Linked DNA regions of Homo sapiens: region 2 is linked to region 1. The links come from fine-mapping of genetic effects on gene expression. Tissue or cell type: liver. Region 1 holds a variant in brackets; the other region holds the start of a gene. All regions are shown on one strand. Distances are from middle to middle.

What was found. PIP is the estimated chance that this variant, and not a neighbour inherited with it, causes the effect.
Region 2: TRIM9 starts here. The variant in region 1 is fine-mapped to the expression of TRIM9 in liver (GTEx, PIP 0.92).

The regions. Positions count from the first base shown.
Region 1 is chr14:51,024,936-51,033,040 of GRCh38, reverse strand. It overlaps TRIM9 (tripartite motif containing 9), which reads left to right. Exons shown (of 13, transcript NM_001387360.1): 2 at 7,681-7,776. Among named protein-coding and RNA genes, the nearest start is that of TRIM9, 66 kb to the left of the region's middle. RefSeq lists an enhancer at 3,451-4,650. The variant A/G (reference allele first, on the strand shown) is at 3,557.
Region 2 is chr14:51,091,383-51,099,487 of GRCh38, reverse strand. TRIM9 (tripartite motif containing 9) reads left to right here and starts at 4,383. Exons shown (of 13, transcript NM_001387360.1): 1 at 4,383-5,370. The coding sequence starts at 4,549. RefSeq lists a silencer at 4,322-4,391.

The DNA.
Region 1 (8,105 bases):
ACCAGTAGTGTTTCAGATTTTGAGTGTTGCAGATTCTGGTATATTTACCTTATACTTACCAGTGGAGGATCACTAATCCAAAAATCTGAAATCTGAAGTGCTCCAAAATTCAAAACTTTCTGAGTGCTGACAAGACGCTCAAAGGAAAGGTTCATTGAAATGTTTCAGATTTTGGATTTTCAGAACAGGGATATTCAACCTGTACTACTTATTGAATTTTAACAATATGCTAGGCATTGCATATAACTTTATATACATGATTTCATGTAATCCTCATGGTAGTCCTAGGATGTAGGTTCTTATTATCCCCATGTTGCAGATGAGGAAACTGAAGCTTAGTATTTTAGACTGGGTTCCCTGGACACAGACTCTGAGAGATAGTTAGTTGTTGTGTGCTCTTGGTAGATCCACCTGGAAGTGAGGAAGCCAGGATTGAACTGAGGCTGAAGCTAACCTGCAATGGCCTCAACCAATCCTACTACAAGTTCTAGATCTGGGATGGTTCTTCAGGGTTGTCCAAAATTGAAGCAAGGGGGCCCCAGCCATTCACTTGCCATGGGACATCCCCAGAAGGGGACATAGCTTTCAGTAAGGCAGTTAGTTCCCTGTGGCCAAGAGCAATTCCTAGGGTAATCTATCAACAGCTGATATTCCCTGCAGCTGGGAGAAGGATGCATAGTCTTTGAGAGAATATTCTGGGTAGAGCACCACAGTATTCACTACAGTTAGGTAATAGGTCCATGATCACACAACTAGTGAAATGCCACCACTGAAACTCAAGTTCATCTGACTTTGAAGTCTATCCTGTTAACTCCAATGCCATGTTGGTCCCCATTGCTCTGTCTGGCCCAATTCCTACTATCTGATGGAATAATGGCATGTCTGATACATTTTTTTGTGGTTCAAAGAATGAAACAGCATGTTTAGACTTAAATTATTATTTAAAAAGAGGTAAATGTCACTATGCATTAGCTTTTGGTGTGAATATTTGTGTGGTTGGGCATGCAAGTCTAACAACAAAGAATGGGAAAGGGGATTCTATGTAACAGTGTGTTGGAATAAAAGCACAGAGCCCTCCTCCTTTCTGCCCTCCACACAGCTCATAGAGTCAGGTTCACAATACAAATGGTGAGATTTGTTTAGTATATGAGAGATGTGCTGGCTTAGGTGGAGGAATTTGTATCCTTGGTGATGTGCTCCCTCACTTATCCTTCAAGGTAACCTTGGCCTGCTGAAGGGTCAGCTCATTGCCCAGAGATTGCCCTGCTCTCCCTGGGTCAGTGGCAGGGCTAGCAACTGTCACTAACTAGCTGGACACTAATTAAAGTGGTAAGGAAAGATTTTAATGTGTAAAAAGGACAGATTTTAATCAGTATACAATTGCAACAGGGAAAAGAGTACATCATGAACTGAACTCAACTTCGATTTGTACAGAGGTGACTGGGCACTTTACAAGGGGAATGAGGGAATAGGAAAGGGGTTGAGCAGGGGCTCAGAGTTACAGAAGTGAAAAAATTCCAAAAATCAGGAAGGGGAAAATCAGTCTGTATGAAATCCATCTGGGTGTGCTAACTTGTGCTTATTGAAGTTAGACCCCTACCCTCTCACAGAGACTGGCAGATAGAGTCCCTTTCTTCAGGTATTCAATGGAACAACATCGAATTCTTTTGGCAGCCTTGAATTTTCTCAGACAGGTACCTTAAGGGAGGCTGGGGTCATCTTAGGAATTCAGCCTTGAGCTGTTAGAAACTGTGTGTTTCTTCAAGTCTTTATAGGTCAAGGTTGAGGCCTAGGTAAGAAGAGGGCTCAGAGGACCCTGGCTATAACTTGGTCAAGGATAGAATCATTCTTTCTTTCTTTCTTTTCTTTTCTTTCTTTTTTTTTTTTTTTTTTGGAAAGAGTTTCATTCTTGTTGCCCAGGCTGGAGTGCAATGGCGCAATCACAGCTCACTGCAACCTCCGCCTCTCAGGTTCAAGCGATTTTCCTGCCTAAGCCTACTGAATAGCTGGAGTTACAGGCGCCCGCCACCATGCCTGGCTAACTTTTTGTATTTTCAGTAGAGACAAGGTTTCACCATGTTGGCCAAGCTGATCTTGAACTCCTGGCCTCAAGTGATCCGCCCGCCTTGGCCTCCCGAAGTGCTGGGATTACAAGCATGAGCCACCACGCCCGGCCTCGAATCTTTCTTATAACCAATTAACAATAAGCAGCAGTTTAATGGAGCAAATCCCTACCCATAAGATTCCTCTGATACCAGCCTTGCTCAAAGCCAAGAGCCTCCCCCAAAGCCAAGAGCCTCCCCATACTCCACTGATGACATATCTCACATACAATCACATACATACACATACACATTCTTACATACTTACACACTCTTAAACTCACATTCTTACCCACATACACATAGACTTTCACACACTCACAGGCATATGCACACTCATACACACACACACCATATGCACACTCATACACACACACACATCCTTTGTCCCTATACTGTGTGCTTCCATTCCCAGGCCCAGCTACTCTTTTGCAAATCATAGCCTGTTCACTGCGCCAGCCCTTTGCTGGGCTTAGAGATAAATTGGCATCTGCAGACCAGCTGGTCTTGGAGGATTCCTGTCCATCTGACTATAGTGAACTGGGGTTGGGGTATATCCAGGATCTTCCAGCACCAGAGAAACCGGAGAAGGGATCCATTCTTGCAGGCACTAAAGGTGCAAGCAGGAGGAATAGAAATGTTTCCTAGAGGGGGAATCAGGACCCTTGGACAGCTCAGCTTGATGGTTCCCCAAGTACCAGTCACTCTGTGAGGTCTCCTTCCTTTACTTAATTCCCACTTCACCCAATCTCTGCCCAAGATCTTAGGCCAGTAGTTGACAAAGTTGTCAGTGGACCTGAATCCAAAGCTTCTTCCCTCCTCCATGAGACTCCTCTCTTAGGGGACTTTTTCAAATTCACCAGAAAACTTCATGCAGGAAAAAAGTTGAATGTTTCATAGGTTAACTAGTCATGCTGTAATTTACATACTATCTGGCTGCTAAGCATAATCAGACCACCTCATAATCAATCATAGTCATCCTCTCACCTTCTCTGGTTGTACATGCTCTCACCGTGGATTAAACAATTAAACAATTGTTTTGGCCTGTGAGGGTGAGAGAATTCTCTTTTTTTGGGAGGCTGGAGCAAAGAGCATGAGTTTGCCATCAGATGAGGGTTTGTGTTCCAGCTGTTCCGTATGTGAGTGGTGAAACCTTCACTCAGGGGTATCCTCTCGGCACCTCTGCAAAATGGCAGGGAGGTGATTGGGATTGCATTGAAAGCACCCATCAGAGTTCCTGGCTCATAAGAAATGACCAATGTATTACAATTATTAGAATTTCTTGCTTACAATTATTAGAATTTCTTGCTTACACTTTTTGATTGTACTATGTCAGCAATGTACTGAGTAACCGGCAATGGGTAATTGCTGAGCAATGTGACCCAGAGATCAATATTTCATCAGAAAAACTGTTATTCTCCTTGGCGGCCTTCCCTCAAAGTCCCATTGCATCA[A/G]TGATCACTTTTTTCCTGAGTGTTGTGTTTATCTTTGTACCTGGGAAGGAGCGGGAGTGGGCTTTGGCTCCTGGGCCCAGTGGTGTTGCGGTGCCTGAATGGCATGCACTGTGATACAGCACCAGAAGGTGCCCCACGCCCGGGGAGGCAGCTGGGTCATTTTCTGAGCCATCAAGCTGCCAGTGCTTGTTTGCCGCCTCCTCTGTTTTGTACCAACTCTTCGAGTGACCCTTTTGACCCATCCTGTGCCTGTAACTTCAGATCCGAGACAGCCAGAAAGCTTCTTTTCATTTGTCCCAGTTTATCGCTATCCAATATTTGTGGTGAATTGAGGGGAAAAGGCCACGTGAAGAATGTTTACAGTGGGAAATGGAAAGAAGATACTGTCTTCTGCCTGGGCACACTCAGCAGCTTGGGCAAGTCAGGCATTGGGCGGGATGGATTGAATTGCATTACCCATTTGCTGAGCGTGAGAAGTAGGTCCTGAAACGTCCTCCACAGTCAGTCCCAGGGTAAGTGCCTGATCTCTCCCTCCTGGGGAGGCAAGGGGAGCCAGGGTCAGGGTGGAAGCTGAGGACGAAAGCCACGCAAGGAGGGAAGGAGGAGGCAGAGTTCTTTGTTTCTCTCCTTCAGGCTTGAACAACTTGTCATCTTTCTGGGAGACCTCGGTGATTCTCAGCATGCTCCCAGCCAAGAACAACTTGACTGGAGATCAGGGCTTCAGCTGCATCATTTTTCTCCTCTCATTCACCTTCAGATCGTGACACCTTTTCAGTAACCTAGAAAACAAATATCCAAGAAATCCGAATGTCACTGCTTAGGCATTATAAACAGCTTTAGAACGTACCTTTCTCCCTTAAATGACTGCTTGTACCACCAAAGATGCCGTGATGAAAACACATACTACATATTTGCATCTTCATTGTTCTGGTCATAAATTTCCAGCACTGCTCTGTGGTCCTGAATGCAGAACATCTTTGTTAGCACAGAGTAGGAATTTAAATGCATCTGGGAAACAAAATCAGTCAATAACAATGTTCTTCTACATCAGATGGAGCTTATAAATGTGATTAAAATACCAACCTATAAAAACAATGTGCATATAAATCCTTACAATAAGAGCACTTTCTAGTGATAGTTTTCCAGGATTTTTCATTGTCTCCTCAATTTCTACAAGTGGACAAAGCTTAAGAGAATGATTTCTAGATCTTTATCTTATAATGCAATTTTTTATCAAATACCAGAACAATCATCAGCCAGGTAGAAGGCATTCTTGGGACGGACCATAAACACAAAGAGGAAATTGGAAATAAATTGATTTTTGCAGTTCACTTACTGCTTTGTCATATAAAATCCTGGGACTAGATGGGGCCAAAACTCTTTGTCTACTACTAGGAATGATTGTATTTCTAAGTATACAGCAGCAACTGGTCAAAAAATCTATGGGTATCAAGTCTGTCTTATACAGACACAATTAATTGCAAGGTTGGAATACAAGACACCAGGCAGCTTCACTTCTGTGTAACCAAATCAATTTTACTTCTGTACTGAAACATCTAAGTGTGGTTACTAAACATAGGTTATAATAAAAAGAGGAAGAAAACTATGGTAGTCCAGCAAACTTTTACTCATTCAGGAAAAAAAAAAGATATGAGTTCTAAAGTAACAATGAAAAAAAATTTCTTCTTTAAAATATGCCTCTCATATTATTGCCTGCTCTTCCAAATGAGACCGTTTTTCCCTCCTTTATCCCTTGGGCTCCTGGAAATATTAATAGTTATTGAGGAGAAACTTTTACTCCAAATAATATTGTAGCTGAGACCCAATCATAAAGAATTTTGCAACTGTAGGCTCACTTTGAGCTTTATCTTACTCAGTTGTGTTGGTCTTGCCTCTTGGAGCCTAAATACATAGAGCAAAGTACAGGTGATCGAAAATGTTCTCCAACAGACCCTGTTCCAGGAATCTGTCCTGCGAATCCCTCCAGTCAGCAGGTGTTTGTGTGAGCAAGAATGAAGAAAACAAATAAGAGTTAACAGCTGGTTGGGCACGGTGGCTCACACCTGTAATCCCAGCACTTTGGGAGGTCGAGGTGGGTGGATCACCTGAGGTCAGGAGTTTGAGACCAGCCTGGCCAACATGGAGAAACCCCATCTCTACTAAAAATACAAAAGTTCACTCGGTGTGGTGGTGCACGGCTGTAATCCCAGCTATTCGGGAGGCTGAGGCAGGAGAATCGCTTGAACCTGGGAGGCAGAGATTGCAGTGAGCCAAGATCACACCATTGCACTTCAGCCTGGGTGAGAGAGTGAGACTCTGTCTCAAAAAAAAAAAAAAAAAAAAAAAAAAAAAGTTAACAGCCAGCATTTATTAAGCACGCATCATGCACTGTGCACCAGTAGGGTAATAGGGTTCTGGGCTTTAGATATAGTATCTTATGCAATGCCCACAAAACCCAAGAATAGTATTCTTCCTCTGATTTTATGGATGAGGTAAAACAATGTATAAAGGGTTGAACAGCCAGTAACTGGCAGCATTTCAGAATTCAGAATTGTTCCCTTAACTAGCAGAAGCTTTCACATTGATTAATGCATTCAACCCTCACAATAACCCAACTACAAAGTATTACTGTTCTTCCCACCTTTTCCATTGGAGTAATTCAGACAAAGGTAACTTTCTCAAGGTCACACTTATAGGGGATAGAGCGAGAATCTGCACCCTTTCAAACCTATATTCTTTCTACCATCCCACATTGCCTCAACCAAGCATTTGGTGTGCATATTTTTAGAGAGTCAGTGCCCAACTTTGTATTTAAAAGACAAATATAAGAGAAAAGCATTCACAGCACCAAGAGATATAATTTTAAGGTTCTGCCCTTTTACAGAAAGGAAAGGGTAGATGAATCATTGTGTTGGCAAGGAGAATAGGCTTTAATTTGAAAAGAAGACAGTGCAGGAAAGGGAGTCTGTCTCTGTACCTGAGGTACGGAAGGGTATACCCAGACTGCTAGGAGGGGAAGGAATTTGTATCAAGTACAGTGATACTTGATATAAATTCCTGCTAGCAATAGAAAACTCCAGAACAGTGACTTGAATAGGAGTTAATTTTTATCACATAACAAGAAAGCTAGTGGTGAAGGTTTCAGGTGTTGACTCAGCTGCTCAAAGATGCCATCAGAACCGAGCTCCTTCCCCTCCCATCCCTCCACCCATACCCTATTGGCCTTCTCCTCATGTGAGCCGGAAGACATCACATCCATCCTAAAGTCAGGAACCACAGTGGAGAGGCTGCATCAATCACAGTGGTTCCGTATCAGCAGAAAAGCAAAAGCTTTCTCAGACCCCTCCAGTCCCCAGCAGACTTCCACTTAGGTGTCGTCCGTCAGGATTGTGTACCACGGCCTCCCCAGCGGACGAGGAGGCTGGAAGAGCAAGTACCTACCTGGACACCTTGCCAACCCAGCAGAACTGCCTCCTCGTATGGATGGGGTGGTGTGGGAAGAAAGAAAGAGAGTAAGCCTTGGTGTCGGAGGCTAGTGAGGAGAGGACACAAATGTGCTAGGGCAGCAGGGCTGTACTTGGGAGAAGGAAGAGGACACGGATGAGGCAGGAGTGGAATGTCATCCTGCCCATTGAATTTGTGATTATATTTAAGTGGCCCCAGAGGATCACACCAGTACCTACCCCTTCCTTCATCCTGTTCTTTACTCTATTCTTTCTGCCCTACCCAGACCAATAGCCCTTTGTGCTAAGTAACGTTGATAAGAATTAGATCATCTGACTCACTATTTTGTTTTGCTTTTTTAGTCCTTAGCAAATATGTATTCAATAAATGATTGTTTAATTAATCAATGAAGGAGGAGATGAAGAAATTCTAGGTTGATATCAGCTGGTGAGGGCCTTTGACTGCTGTGGCCAGAAGTGTTCACTGCTTCCAAGGAGAAACTACTCAGGAGCACAGGGAGTTTCGACACCAGAATCTACCTGTACAAATGCCAGCAAAAAGGTCCAACCTCAGACAAGAGGAATCTGAGGAGGTTGATGACTCTTCAGTTTTGAGTCTCGCTGGCCTTGTTGGTGTATCCTGTGATTACAGCTCCATGGCTTCCTTCTTTGTCTTTGCAGAGCCAGCTCTCCCAGGCGCTGAACGGACTGTCAGACAGGGCCAAAGAAGCCAAGGAGTTTCTGGTACAGCTGCGCAACATGGTCCAGCAGATCCAGGTATGGGTGTTACCTGGGACGCAAGGAAACCCGCCGGTTAATACGTAACTGTGTGGCGGGAGAGTTTCCTTCTCCTCTTTTATTTTTATGTGTCGTGGGAAAATTCCTATTTTGTGGTTGTTGTTGTTCTTTACATACAAACACATAGAGATCAACTTCAAACATACCCCTTCTTGAGGTAGTTACTTTTTGCCAACAAGCCGGAAACACAGCCTGATTTTCCAACTGGTTCCTGTCTTCCACACTGAGGTCCTAATTCTCTACTACTGAATATTCAGAAAGAGGCCTATTTTTTTGTAAACTCAGGGTCCTTATTGTTGAGCTTGTAA
Region 2 (8,105 bases), 66 kb before region 1:
GCCTCCAGAACCATGAGCCAATATATTTCTGTTTCTTATAAATTATCCAGTCTGTGGTATTCTGTTATAGCAGCAAAAACGGACTATGACAGGGTGACTTCTTTCAGTTTTAGTAGGCTGTAGAATTTGTTTCACATTATTTTCACCTGCAAGGTTGTAGAAAGCAGTCCAATGCCAATCTGATTCTTTTTTCTTTACAATTAAGTTGTTCTTTCTTTCTGGGAGCTTGTAAAATGATCTTTTTTTTTTCTTCTGAGTTAAGAATTGTGTCTGTATATAACTGGGTCTTTTTTCATTAATGTCATCTATAATTCTAAAATCCTTTCAATCTGTAATTTTATATATTTTTTTGGTTCAGAGAAATGTTTTCCAACTATGGTTTTCCCTCCACCTGTGTTATTTCCTCATTCTGAGATTCCTATTATTCACAAGTTAGGTCTTCTGGATTTATCCTCTAGCTCTCTTACCTCCATATAGGATTCATTAAATCTTCATTTTCTCCGATTCTCCAGTCTACCCTTCCCAAAGCATCAGTAATATATTACTTACAATAAGAAATACTACAGAATTTGAATATGGCCATCTTCCAGTAGTACTAAATGGGAAAAAGCTCATAATTCACTATAATAATCAAATAATTTAAATTACCAAAGGATATCAACAATAAATGTTATTAAAGAATAGTACAAAATTATAAGTATAAAATTGAATATTAGTAGACTAAATGGGGTAAATTATTCCATAAAAGAAGTTTCTTCAGAATTTCTATTGAGAATAGAAACATCACATTTATCACTTTTCAAGTGATGTACTTTTACAAACCACATGCAGCAAGACCCTTATTCAAATACCTTAATAAAATATTTTTATATACATGTCAGATAATCTTAAAATGTTAGAGCCTAAGATCAGCTCCTTTCACTGATTTCCACCCCCCTCCCACAACTAAGGATAGACTACTCTAGGAGAGAATGTGGAAAGAAAAACCTTTCTTCTCTGTGTTCATTCTTTAGACTCACAGAGACTGTTTTGTTAATAATCAAGCATTGTAGTCAAAAGCAAATAGGAAAGCAACTCAATTTTTCATTGAAAAACATTTATCAAAAAAAGAAAAACATTTATCTTTTTTTAAAAATGCAAAAGCTGTTGTTGCACTTTAAATGTAATTGCTCTCATTGCTAAAGAACATAATTTGGGTGAATAGTAAGTTTCAAAGGATAATTAGGCACTTTACACAAAAGAGAACATCTGCAATCATCCCAGGAATGATGAAATTACAGGGCTATCAATCCTTGTGCTTCAGGGCATGGACTGATCACCAGCTGGAAGACAGAAGATATCCCCTCAATAGTATAATATTTCTATAATATTACCAATTACATTTCAATTTTTATTCCCTTTTAAACATAAGTCATTGGGGGGCTATAAAGCACATTATGGCCAAACAGTGCAACATGAGGGGAAAATCTTCAAAGGCCTTCAAGAATATTTTAAAGAAATGGATTCAAAGAAAAATAGTAAACTTTTGGCTGGGAGCGCTGGCTCATGCGTGTAATCCCAGCACTTCGGGAGGCTGAGGCAGGTGGATCACTTGAGGTCAGGAGTTTGAGACCAGTCTGGCCAACATAGTGAAACCCTGTCTCTACTAAAAAAAAAAAATGTAAAAATTAGCCAGGCATGGTGGTGCACACCTGTAGTCCCAACTACTCAGGAGGCTGAGGCACGAGAAACACTTAAACCTGGGAGGTGGAGGTTGCAGTGGGCCAAGATTGTGCCACTGCACTCCAGCCTGGGGAACACAGCAAGACTCCAGTCTCAAAAAAAAAAAAGGAAAAAAAAAGTAAACTTTCAGAGAAGGTGAGCAGAATATCATAGAAGTTAACAAAGAACATTTTGGGTACTTATCACATTCAGAGCTTGAAGAGAGTAGAACTCAGCACTTGTTGAATGAATGAATGAATGAATGAATGAACAAAGGAACAAACTTATATGTGTCCGGGTTCCAATCCCAGCCTCACCATATTTGACCTTGAGTACTTAAGTGTCTTTGCTTATCTTCAGTTTATTTATCTGTAAAATGGGAATAATTGTGCCTACCTCTTCTTGTAATTACAGGGATTTAACCAAGTAATGTATACAAATAAATAAATCCCCTGTTTGGAACAGGGTGAACTCTCAACAAATGAGTCATTTTAAGAGCTCTCCTAGGATTGACTGATTTAGCTAATTCCTAAACAAACAGATCTAACAATGAAATCATCTCAAGCGACTTCATAATAGACCAAATCTTTCTATATTGACTATATTATAAACCTGTGTTGTTCTTTTTGCGAACCCAACACTGCATTACACCATGAGACATCCTCTAAAATTCTTCTTTACTTTGAACTAAGCATAAACTTTCTGCTAATAAGATCTCTTAGATGATATACTATTATAAGCAGAGTTCAAACTCATACAAAGTGTAACAGCTGCTCACCTTGCTGGTCCAAGATATTGTGACTTGTGGTCAAATGCATACAAAAGCCATAAAAGGACACTCCTTTCTAATATTTTCTCAATAATTAACTTTCATTACAATTCAATTAATACTATATTGAATATAATTATTAGTAATTTCTCTTGGGACCTATAAATTAAGTGTATCCTGCAAGTGCAGCTAATGTCCCAACCATACCTGAAGAAATTTTATCTATGTCTGTAAACAGAGTGCATATACCTTTGGATGCTCTGGTCTCAACTAGTTGAAAGCCAGCTTAAAAATAAATCACGTCACATTTATGATTAACATGGCTTTAAATAACAATGGGGACTTTATTCCCCCACACAATGATCAACTACTGTTCTCACTGCAACTAAAGATGTTGAAAAGATAACCTAGTTTATTGGACAATTTCTACAAGGGCAGTGTAATAAAATGTCCATTTTTTTTCTGGACAATAAAGTACTTTTAAATTATCAACATAGCTGCATATAATCAAGTTATCTCCTGTCTGGAAGGTGGAAAATTGGAATATTTCTAGAACTTGCAAAGAGTTTTTGTCCTTTACTTCATGAATCATTCAGCAAAAGCCGGCTATGTACTATTTCAAATGTTACTACCTCAGAATGTCACTTGACTCAAAGATTTTCCTTTCCTTTTCTTCTTCCTCCCTCCCTTTCTTCCCTTCCTTCCGCCTTTCCTTTCCCCCCCCCTTCCTTCCTCCCTCTCTCCCTCTTTCCCTTCTTCCCTCCCTCCCTCCCTCCTTGTACAGGGACTAACACTAGAATCACCGCCTCACCATGCCCCTCGTTGGAAGAAACAGAAAGGCACACGATGCTGTAAGCTATGGCAGATGCCCAGGGCACGTGGGGTTGAATAATGCTGTTTGGAGTGAAACACTGAGACTCCGCAGTCACACAGTGATTCATTTACAGAGCTTTACTAAACTACGGGCACTCAGAAATAGACAAACTGTTCTTGCCTCAACCGAACCAAAGGCCCAGCGGGCCTCGAAAAAGCTCAGCCAGGTGCTTTGGGAGGCCGCGAGGAGGAAGAAGGATCCGTGGAAGGAAGCACGTTCACACCACGGCACTGAGGCCTCTGGGCCGAGCTATAATTTAAAGCATGAAACGAAGGGGTCATAGATTCTGACTAATGCTGACCATTTCCATCGGTTACCCAGTTGAATCTCATGTCGACACTAGGAAATCGACTTTATACATGCTCTTTAGGAAACGAGGGACGCAGGATGAAAGAAGCCAAGAGTGTCGCCAGGGCTTGCGCCAGCGCCGTCAGACTCCCGGGATGGGGGAGCTCCAGGGCACGGCGTCAGCGGATTCACGGAGAAGGAGAAAAGCCCCACTGCCGTGCAGAAGCCTAGGCCCGGGTGAGACGCCTGCGAAGGCTGCCAGCAGCGGAAGAGAAGGGGCGTCCTCCGTGCTGCGCAGCACTCGCCCGCGGTAGGTGGGCGCGGAGCTCAGAGCTGGGAGCCAAACGCAAACGCTGGCGAGAAGCCCCAGCCCCCTCCGGCAGCCCACTCGCTGCGGGGAGGGGTTTCTCACGCCCCCAGCTCCTGGGAGACTGCACCGGAGGTCGGAAGTAAGCCGGGCGAGGATGAATCATCCCGCCTAACTCCTCCTTCCCGGTCCCCTAGCCTCCGCACGCCGGCCCCCTTCAGAGATCTTGCAGCCGCGAGCGAAGACTGCCCTATCCTCAGACTCTACCGAACCCCCTGTGGCCTGCGGAGACGAGGAGACGGACGGGTCTGGTGGCCAATGAGAGCTTCGATCTCTTGCCCCCCGCCCAATGGGCCGCTGCTCATGGGCCGGGGCGGGACTAGGAGGGCAGGTAGGGGCGGTCCGGGCTGGCGCGCGGCGCGGCGGCTACGCGGCTGCGGCTCACAGAGCTAGCGCCTCTCTGGGTGTCCGTGCCAGTGCTGCGCGGGAAGGCACCACCACCACAGCCGCCGCCGCTGGCCAGGGTGCTGGACAAGACGGGCCCGTCGGCCACCTCGCCAGCTCAGGCACCCGCTGCAGCCGTCGCTGTCTCCTCCCAGACCGGTCCCCATGGAGGAGATGGAAGAGGAGTTGAAATGCCCCGTGTGCGGCTCCTTCTATCGGGAGCCCATCATCCTGCCCTGCTCTCACAATTTGTGTCAGGCGTGCGCCCGCAACATCCTGGTGCAGACCCCAGAGTCTGAATCCCCCCAGAGCCATCGGGCCGCGGGCTCCGGGGTCTCCGACTATGACTATCTGGACCTGGACAAGATGAGCCTATACAGCGAGGCGGACAGCGGCTATGGCTCCTACGGGGGGTTCGCCAGCGCCCCCACTACCCCGTGCCAGAAGTCCCCCAACGGCGTCCGCGTGTTTCCCCCGGCTATGCCGCCACCGGCCACCCACTTGTCACCGGCCCTGGCCCCGGTGCCCCGCAACTCCTGTATCACCTGCCCCCAGTGTCACCGCAGCCTCATCCTGGATGACCGGGGGCTCCGCGGCTTCCCCAAGAATCGCGTACTGGAAGGGGTAATTGACCGCTACCAGCAGAGCAAAGCCGCGGCCCTCAAGTGCCAGCTCTGCGAGAAGGCGCCCAAGGAAGCCACCGTCATGTGCGAACAGTGCGATGTCTTCTACTGCGATCCGTGCCGCCTGCGCTGCCACCCGCCCCGGGGGCCCCTAGCCAAGCACCGCCTGGTGCCCCCGGCCCAGGGTCGTGTGAGCCGGAGGCTGAGCCCACGCAAGGTCTCCACCTGCACAGACCACGAGCTGGAGAACCACAGCATGTACTGCGTGCAATGCAAGATGCCCGTGTGCTACCAGTGCTTGGAGGAGGGCAAACACTCCAGCCACGAAGTCAAGGCTCTGGGGGCCATGTGGAAACTACATAAGGTGAGTCCTAAGAAAACCCACTCCTAACTCCCTGCGTCTCCGATCATCCGGTTTTGCAGCAGACGGTCCCCGTCTCTTGCGCACAGCGCATCCCAGTGGGGGCGCAATGCAGGTGCCTTCGATGTTTACCTCCCTGGTCTGGTGCATTGCAGGAGGCATGGGGGAATCTTAACCGGCGCACGGGGGAGTTGAATGCCCCCACAGAGTTGTTGCGGGGATGCCTTAGAGCGGGTCTCTCGGGGCGCGCTGCCTGCGAGCGGGACTCAGGGCGCCCCCTTTCCGCGGCGGGTCTGCAGCCAGTGGCCGCGGCCAGTGTGTGGGAAAGCACTGCATAGCTGGGTAGAGCCGCGCCAGTGCCCAGGGCCGCTAGGCACGCTCGAGGGCAGGGCGGGCTGCGAACCCTCGGGGAGGGACTGGGATGGGGGCGGTGGGGTCGCGCGGACGGCGGGAGTCTGTCGCTGCTGGATAGGCGGACCTGGTGAGGCACGGCGGAGGGTCGGGGAGACGCCGCAGGCGGAATACTGATGAGCCCGGCTCTGGGCCAGACCTGGCTCTCGAGCTGGAGAGAACGCGGGGTCCTGGTGCCACGTGCTCAAAAGACAGAGCGGAGAGGGCAGCCAGCGGTCGCCATGGCAACGCGACGTGCAGGCTTGGGCCTGAACCCTTCCGGAGTTGGGACCTGAGACTAGAGTGTCAGGACCGGAGTTTGCGCAGTCGCGGCCTGGAAGCCAGACAGGTGCATCTCCTAGGGAAACCTTCTCCTCCCAACTATACACACACCCACTTCTCCGGAATTCAAGCCCTTTCCTCTTTCAGTAGTTATATGTGCAAACTTTGGGACACCTGTTACCAGATTTATCTTTCCAGTCTCTTTTGATGATATTTCCACCATGGCTAGACACGAAGAGGCTTTAGCAACATATTCTGTCGTGCCACTCCTCTGCTCAAAACCCTCCAATTTTTCCCACGCTTCTCAGCCTGTCCTACATGACCTCTTCCATTTTGGCCCCTTCGACCTCATTGCCTCCCACTTACTCCCTCTGCTCCAGCCACACTGCTTCTTACTGTTCCTCAAACGACGCCAGGCACCTCCCTACTCCAGGGCCTTTGCATTTGGTGTTCATTCAGCCTGAAGCTCTCTTCCCCAGTTACCTGAGATCCGAATGGGTCACTTACCTGCATCCTTCAGCTCTTTGCTCAGGTATCATCTTTGCAGCGCCACCCACCCAGACACCCGCTAGTTCCCTCTCAGCTTTATTTTCCTCAGTAGTATTTATCCCTGTGTGGCATGCTATATATTTTAATTATGTTATTTTTTGTATTTATCTATTGCTCCCTGTACACACACAGACATAAACGAAATAAGCCTCATGAGGAAGAAGATCCTTATAATATGCCCACACTGCTTAGAAGGAAGGGAGCAACTCTTGAGGAGATGTGCATGAATTTGCTTTTCATTTTTTAAATGATCCATTTAGTTGGGGCTGTGGAGTGCAGGGCAGGGATTCAGGATGGTTGGAAGGAGCTTTTCTTTACATCACTGAGTTGCATACCCAAGGATGAGATGGAGCAGTGAAGATAGTGTCCAGGCCTCAGCTGTGGCCTTGCTCAGAGTCTCCCAGAATTCCTTGGAGACTAGAAAGGGTAGCTTTTGCAAGTGGCCAACTGTGGAGTTAAGGCTGGAACATTGATATTTTGTTTACAGCAAGAAAAAAATGTCATTAATTTTCAGCAATCAGTGAAAGTTTTCTCAACTCCTTAACCCGGTTGAATGTGATCCATGTTTACAGTCATTCTATTCTCACATATAACCTATTAAATCATATTAGTACTGATGGGGATTTCATTTAGCACAAATTGAAGCCTAACTGGGCACACACCACTGTTTTCAGAACAGTCGAATTTAAATTTTTGAAAATGACATTTAATTTTGAAAGTTTTCAAAACTTGAGTTCACAGCTAGTTTTTTATTCATATTTTGATTTCACTTTTAAACTGCTAATTATAGTCCATGTTGAATTGCCCTACAAAGTATCCTTGGAACTAAAAAATTAATCACTCTGTCAGGAAAAAGAATTTAGAGCCACAAGGTAATTAGGATGGGTAAACCACAACATTATTATTTTTTTTATGACAAGCCTATCCTTGATCTATTAAGACCAAAAGAAACCTTTAAATCTCTGTCAAGCCCCATGTCAATTTGAAATGTTAAATCATTTGTTTTATTGGCAATAGAAATTATGAGTAGACAGACACTGGTGCTGCCTGGGTTGAGATTTAGATATCTACCTGCCACAAAAGAATGTTAAAACCCTTGAAACATGACATAAGTAGGCTAGAAGACCATTTATTCTCTGATCTTTTGCACATTTTTTCCAAAACAGTAAGGACACATAATTTTTGTTCAGTCAATATGAGGATTACTAAACTGCCAAGAAAAAAAATAAGACAGAAGGATGACAGATTTTAACATTCACTTGTCATCTGTTAGATGAACAACAAACATTACTCCCCCACCTTATTTACTTAATAAGGAAGTTAATGTGTTAGCAGCCAGTTTTCTCATATAGTTTATGTTTTAGTTAATGGTACTTCTATCTCCACAAAAGCCCATGGGCCAGAATTTCTATGCCCTGCAAAAATAGGACAGCAAAGAACTATACTAACTAGGTTTCCAAAATTGGGCAGTTAGTTATCAACACAGGTTATTACTAGACCTGAAAAGTTGTCATTCA